Linked DNA regions of Homo sapiens. The protein of the gene in region 2 purifies or fractionates together with the protein of the main gene of each other region. This does not show direct contact. Each region holds a gene or a part of one and is shown on either strand. Other genes may lie near its edges. The genes, in order: GATC and CYP4V2.

The links.
Region 1: the proteins of CYP4V2 (region 2) and GATC purify together in Homo sapiens (affinity purification with mass spectrometry; 2 studies listed by BioGRID and IntAct, with this or other methods). This does not show direct contact.

What each region holds. Positions count from the first base shown.
Region 1 is NC_000012.12:120,456,365-120,460,186, reverse strand, and holds part of GATC (glutamyl-tRNA(Gln) amidotransferase subunit C, mitochondrial), read right to left. Parts: intron 3,112-3,822; coding exon 3,008-3,111; intron 281-3,007; coding exon 228-280; 3' UTR 1-227. UniProt on the Homo sapiens protein: Allows the formation of correctly charged Gln-tRNA(Gln) through the transamidation of misacylated Glu-tRNA(Gln) in the mitochondria. The reaction takes place in the presence of glutamine and ATP through an activated gamma-phospho-Glu-tRNA(Gln).
Region 2 is NC_000004.12:186,208,245-186,211,264, reverse strand, and holds part of CYP4V2 (cytochrome P450 4V2), read right to left. Parts: intron 2,401-3,020; coding exon 2,266-2,400; intron 2,173-2,265; coding exon 1,993-2,172; intron 797-1,992; coding exon 624-796; 3' UTR 1-623. UniProt on the Homo sapiens protein: A cytochrome P450 monooxygenase involved in fatty acid metabolism in the eye.

The DNA.
Region 1 (3,822 bases), on a different chromosome or scaffold from region 2:
CTGACTTTTGCTTTTCTTTCACCTCAGTTAGCATCAGGAACTCACTGCCTTGTTGGGGCCAGATCTTTCCCAATTCTGTCTTCAGAAGAATCTGTTATTAAGAAATGCTTGAGCATCCATTTTTTCAGGGGACTGAAAAAAGCAGGAACATTAGTATTCACAGTAAAAAAATACTGTCATTATGCTTCCACATGTTCACAGAGTACCCCCTTTCCAGAATGAGCTACTCAGCTGTGTGGGAATGGCTCTTGTTCATCCAGCTTTGGCAAAGAGATATTACCTGTTTGAAAATAACAAAAGAGAATTTTTGTTTGTTTGTTTGTTTTTGTTTTGAGACAGAGTCTCGCTGTTGCCCAGGCTGGAGTGCAGTGGCGCAATCTCAGCTCACTGCAGGCTCCGCCCCCTGGGGTTCACGCCATTCTCCTGCCTCGGCCTCCAGAGTAGCTGGGACTACAGGCGCCCGCCACCTCTCCCGGCTAATTTTTTGTATTTTTAATAGAGACGGGGTTTCACCGTGTTAGCCAGGATGGTCTCGATCTCCTGACCTCGTGATCCGCCCTCCTCGGCCTCCCAAAGTGCTAGGATTACAGGCATGAGCCACCGCGCCCGGCCACAACAGAGAATGTTATAGCTGAGCCTGCCGCCCAGCTGGCTCTACTGAGCTAACTGATCACTACTTTCTCATGGAAAATATGGAAGTAATGTAGCTACTGTCCTGTTTTCCTAACTGGGAGTATCTGAAAGAATCAGTTCTAAGTGTAGCCAAATTCACCTTTTTCAGTAAGGAGTATACAGGTTGATTAGCCACTAATATGCAGATAGGACTAGAAGGAAACACTGACCATGAACTCAGGTGGTCCCAAAAAGCAAAGTCTGAAGTAAGGTTCTGTGTGGGAGATAGCATGTCTGATCAAAAGATATTTCTGCTGGAGCCACAACTATCAGGCTCTGAGATGGAGAGTCTCCTTTCTCTCCACAGTTAACAGGTGGTTTAGTGGATTGGAGGCATGATTAAGAGTTTAGCTCACGGCCGGGTGCGGTGGCTCACACCTGTAATCCCAGCACTCTGGGAGGCCGAAGCGGACGATCACGAGGTCAGGAGAGAGAGACCATCCTGGCTAACACGGTGAAACCCCGTCTCTACTAAAAATACAAAAAATTAGCCAGGCGTTGTGGTGGGCGCCTGTAGTCCTAGCTACTTGGGAGGCTAAGGCAGGAGAATGGCATGAACGTGGAAGGTGGAGCTTGCAGTGAGCCGAGATCGCGCCACTGCACTCCAGCTTGGGCAACAGAGCAAGACTCCGTCTCAAAACAAACAAAAAGTTTAGCTCACAAAATTTCTAGCTTTCTTTCCCATCCTTGCATCAACCAGAGCCTGCCTTTAACTGGCACCTTAAGCTGACCAGGGCCAATGTCTTCTGTGGAGTCTGCTCAGAATGATTCTCCCTCAGGATATCCTGAACTGGAAGTTGGCACTTAGCAGGCTACCTGATTGCTTTTGGCTAGTCCCACTCCCAGATGCCCAGAGGGGTAGTACAACAGCTCCAAGTATTCACCTACCTGCAGAGGAGATAAAAACAGTCAACCTATCCAAGGTTCTGGATTTTACTGTCAGCCCAGAGTAATTTTAAAGCTTCTATTTAAAATATTTACAGTAGGTAGATGATGCAAATCTCTATACCAGCTGTTGTAAACTGATGGCTCACAGACTGCACCTGGCTTGCAGATGTGTTTTATTTGGCTTGGATGGTATTTTGTTTTTTAAATTTTGAATTGGTTGCTAGCACTTAAAATTTAAGAAATATCGGCGGGGTGCAGTGGCTCACCCCTGTAATCCCAGCACTTTGGGAGGCTGAGGCGGGTAGATCACCAGTTCAAGACTAGCCTGGCCAAGATGGTGAAATCCTGCCTCTACTAAAAATACAAAAATATTAGCCAGGCATGGTGGCAGGCACCTGTAATCCCAGCTACTCGGCAGGCTGAGGCAGAGAATTGCTTGAACCCGGGAGGCAGAGGTTGCAGTGAGTCAAGATTGCACTCCAGCCTGGGTGACCGAGCGAGACTCCATCTCAAAAAAAAAAAAAAAAATTTAAGAAATATCACACAAAATGTCAGGTATCCAGGTTCTCTGGAGAAATGGGTTTACATTCCTGCCTGGCAACACTGATAGGGTAGCAGCCATGCTCCTCCTGCTTTGAATGGGCACAGACTGAGGGCAGACCCTAATGGCGTTTGAATCATGTCATAGGCAAAGATGTGACAGAAACATCTGGGCTAAGGCCACACATGATAACTAAGTTGTCACAATAAGATTCGTTTTGGGAGGCCGAGGTGGGTGGATCACCTGAGGTCGGGAGATCGAGACCATCCTGGCTAACACAGTGAAACCCTGTCTCTACTAAAAATACAAAAAATTAGCCAGGCGTGCTGGTGCATGCCTGTAATCCCAGCTACTGGGGAGCCTGAGCAGGAGAATCGCTTGAACCCGGGAGGTGGAGGTTGCGGTGAGCCGAGATTGCACCATTGCACTCCAGCCTGGGCAACAAGAGCGAAACTCCGTCTCAAAAAAAAAAAAAAAAAAAAAGGATTCTTTTAGGAAAGGACTGGTTTTTTTGTGGTACCCAGCCCAAAGCTAGACCTAACAAATATTTATTCATGGTATGAATACTAGAAAGTTGGAGTCGATTACAGGATCTGGCAGGGTCTTAACTGTGGCTTTGAGAAACACTGAATGCCAGCTGCCCCTTTAGGGAGATCTTGAGCTCCAGATTTCCACCTACTTTAAACCTCCCGCATGCCCCCAATCCTGTTTTGCTTGTTCCTGTTACTAACTGCCCCCTAGAGGTGAGTATGACCCTGGACCCTACTGCCACCTTAATGCCACCATCTGTATGCACTTCATCCTTTTCAAAGTGCCTTCACATAGCATCTTTGGTCCTCATGCTTCCTGCTTCATTCCTAAGGTTACTGTGAGACTATCTGTTAAACCATTCTGGGCAGCACGTACCTGGGGGGGCCACAAAGTACTCCTCCACGACGCGATGGGAGTTTTGTAGTAATTCATCAGCACAGTTGCCTTCTACCACATTGTCGGATCTCAGGTATAGACATCTACAAAACCCAGAAGCTCAAGGTTACCCTCTCAGAGAAGGGGGCTTTTAGGGGATGATGGAGAGGGGCAAGAAGGAGAGAACAAGGAAGCAGTATATTCTTGAGTTAATGGGCACTGTTCAAAGATAGAGAAGCTGGGATCAACAGTAGACCAAATAACAGCCTACAGTTTATAGATTGACCGAACAACCCTGAGAAGTAAGTGCTAATTACTTCTCTGGATTGATTTAACAAATAGTTTTTGATGATTATATGGGCAACTGTCTTTTGGTGGGGACAGGTAAAAGCAATTACAAAAACAATATTTTAAATCTAACAGAGGTTAGTACAGCCTGCCAAAGGATAGAAAGGGTACCTAGTCCAGCCTGCGTGAGTAGCACATCCTCAGAATAGCTGATGTCACTGTTCAAGGATGGGCAAGAAATAGCTGGATTGGGGGATGAAGGTATGAGAAATGGACTTCCTGGCACGTATAGCAGCATGAATCCCAAAGCAATAGAGCCGAGAGCTCAGAGATTCAGAGAAGGACAGGGAGTTTAGCAGGCTGGGGTGTGGTCTGCCGGGGTGGAAGATGAAGCTGGAAAGCTAAGCAGAGATGGGGAAGCAAACTTGCCACAAGAGTAACTTAAGGATGTTGGCTGCTAAGTAACAACTGGGATCTCAGCCCAATCTGATACACCTAAAATGAATGCTTTTTCCACCACAGCCACT
Region 2 (3,020 bases):
AATTGGACTGTGGATTCCTCTGTTGAGAAACCTGTTAGATGTTTATTTGGGTGCTGACACAATTAACTACTTTTGTGACCACAGCCAACTGTAACATCTATGGTGGTGATAAAAATAAAAAACTCTGGCCAGGCGTGGTGGCTCACGACTATAATCCCAGCACTTTGGGAGGCTGAGGCAGGTGGATCACTTGAGGTCAGGAGTTTGAGACCAGTCTGGCCAACATGGTGACACCCTGTTTCTACTAAAAATACAAAAAAATTAGCCAGGCATGGTGGCAGGCACCTGTAATCCCAGCTACTTGGGAGGCTGAGGCAGAAGAATTGCTTGAACCTGGGAGGTGGAGGTTGCAGTGAGCTGAGATCACACCACTGCACTCCTCCAGCCTGGGCGACAGAGTGAGACACGGTTTCAAAAAAAAAAAATAAAGAAAAAAGAAAAAAGAAAATACAAAACTCAAAACTTTTTCTTTGTTAGACTTGATGTCAAGATCAGTGGGATCAAGGAAAAATTAGGTCTAGGGGATTCAAGCATATTGAACTCATGATCTGTAAATTGTAAATGACAAGGATCTCTTAAAATAAAGACCTTTCTCATGATAAAGGCACAACCCAATAATATAGTTAGCGTTCATCTGCATTTCTCCTCTTCAACTTGATCCAGATGCCATTACTTGGACGAAGAATCAACTGTCCTTCTAGACCAAGCTCTTCTCTTTTCTGGTTGGATTCTATCCAAAAGTGCCTCAGGATGCACGAAAGAATGGTCTTTTCTTCCATCACAGCAAACTTTTGACCTTCAAATTAATGTAGATACCATCGCTTTAGTTATAGATTTACCCCAAATGTGAGAAACAAGAGGTCCTGTCATAGGAAGCGAGCCACTTTACATTTTCGCAGTAGGTGGAAGGAGAACCAGAATGGCTTGGAACACCTGTTAAAGATGAAGAGTCTTGAGTTTCCCTCCCTGATCCCACCTTGCACATCTATAGCTGGGGAGGATCAGAGAATTTGTACTCCAGCTGATCCAGATAAATCCTGAGCTCCTTCAAGCTTGAGACTCACTACCCTAGATTATGTCTTAGTGGGTCTTTCATTTACTATGGATTCACCAAAAAAGCTTCAGATTCACCCGTTTCACTCTGGCCTCATTTTACCGATGTCTGCATTTACATAAATGACAAAATGCTAGAGATACTAAAACCAAAAGGGTTTATAATGCAGGGTGGTGATGTGCATTCATTTTGCTTAAGTACTAGCTGGCCATATGGCAAGCATTTGCTGTTTTGATTTGCAAAATGAAATTCTTAAAAGCAATAAACACAAAAATTAGGTTAACCATAAGTAATCATTAATAAAGTTTTTACCACAATAAGTTATATTCTACTGTAATTAAAACTCTACAACATTTTGAAACTCTACCATGAAGCTAATTATGTTTTATGTTATGGGTAATTGTGTCTCTCTCCAAATTCTAAGCCCCCCCCATACCTTAGAATATGACTGTATTTGGAGACAGGTAATCGAAAGAGGTCAGTAAGTATAAGTGAGGTCATTGGGGTAGGCCCTAGTGTAGTCTGACTGGAGAGAAGATCAGGACACAGACCCACACAGAGGAAAGACCAAGTGAAGACATAAGGAGAAAATGGCATCTACAAGCCACGGAGAGAGGCCTCAGGAGAAACCAGCCCTGCCAACACCTTGTTCTTGAACTTCCAGCCTCCAGAACTGTGAGAAAATAAATTTCTGCTGTTTAAGCCACCCAGTCTGTGGTATTTTGCTATGGAAGCCCATGCAGGCGAATATACTAATATACCTTTTGACCGTAATATTTTAAAACTACAAAGCACAGTGAGGGAAAAAAGAAACCACCTATTTTTTTTTTAAGGCTGTTGCATATGGGCAATGTCACATCACATCTCAAAGAAATCACTGTGAGAAACCCACCATCAAGTGGGCCTGAAAGGTCAAACCAATTCAGATGGATACAAACCTATACAGTTCCTGGGGCCAGCAGAGAAGGGCACGTAGGCATATGGATGGCGCCCTTGTGCATTCTCGGGGAAGAACCGCTCAGGCTGGAACTCCTCGGGGTTGGGGAAGTATCTCGGATCTCTGTGCAATGCATAGGGAATGATGACGGCTTCAGTGCCTTTTAGAACTCTGTAACCTGCTGTCAAGAAGTAGTCAATACATTATGAGACCGGAGCAAGGTAGACATTAGAAAGTTTCCCTCTCCCTTCTACTTTAGGTATAGCATACTTACCCACTTCACAATCTTCACTAACACTACGGGCAAATAAAGGAACAGAAGGAAAAAGGCGAAGGGTCTCCTTAATAACACATTCCAGATACCGAAGTTTCTTCAGGTCTTCTACTGTAGCGGGACGGTCAGACTTCCCTGATGAAAGCAAGTAGATAAGATGACCTGAAAGAGCAGTGGGGGCTGGGGGTGCAGACATCTAAAAAGAACAGGTGGATCAAGGCATGGCATGCTAAATACCCATCAAATACCCAACAAAGAAGAACACGTGGATCAAGGCAGGGGATGCTAAATACCCATCAAATGCCCATCAAAGAAGAACATGTGGATCAAGGTACTGGATGCTAAATACCCATCAAATACCCTTCAAAGAAAAACACGTGGACCAAGGCAGGGGATGCTAAATACCCATCAAATACCCTTCAAAGAAGAACATGTGGATCAAGGTACTGGATGCTAAATACCCATCAAATACCCATCAAAGAACACGTGGATCAAGGTACTAGATGCTAAATACGCATCAAATACCCTTCAAAGAAGAACATGTGGATCAAGGCAGGGGATGCTAAATACCCATCAAATGCCCATCAAAGAAGAACACTTGGATCAAGGTACTGGATGCTAAATACCCATCAAATACCCTTCAAAGAAGAACACGTGGATCAAGGTACTGGATGCTAAATACCCATCAAATACCCTTCAAAGAAGAACACGTGGATCAAGGCAGGGGATGCTAAATACCCATCAAATACGCATCA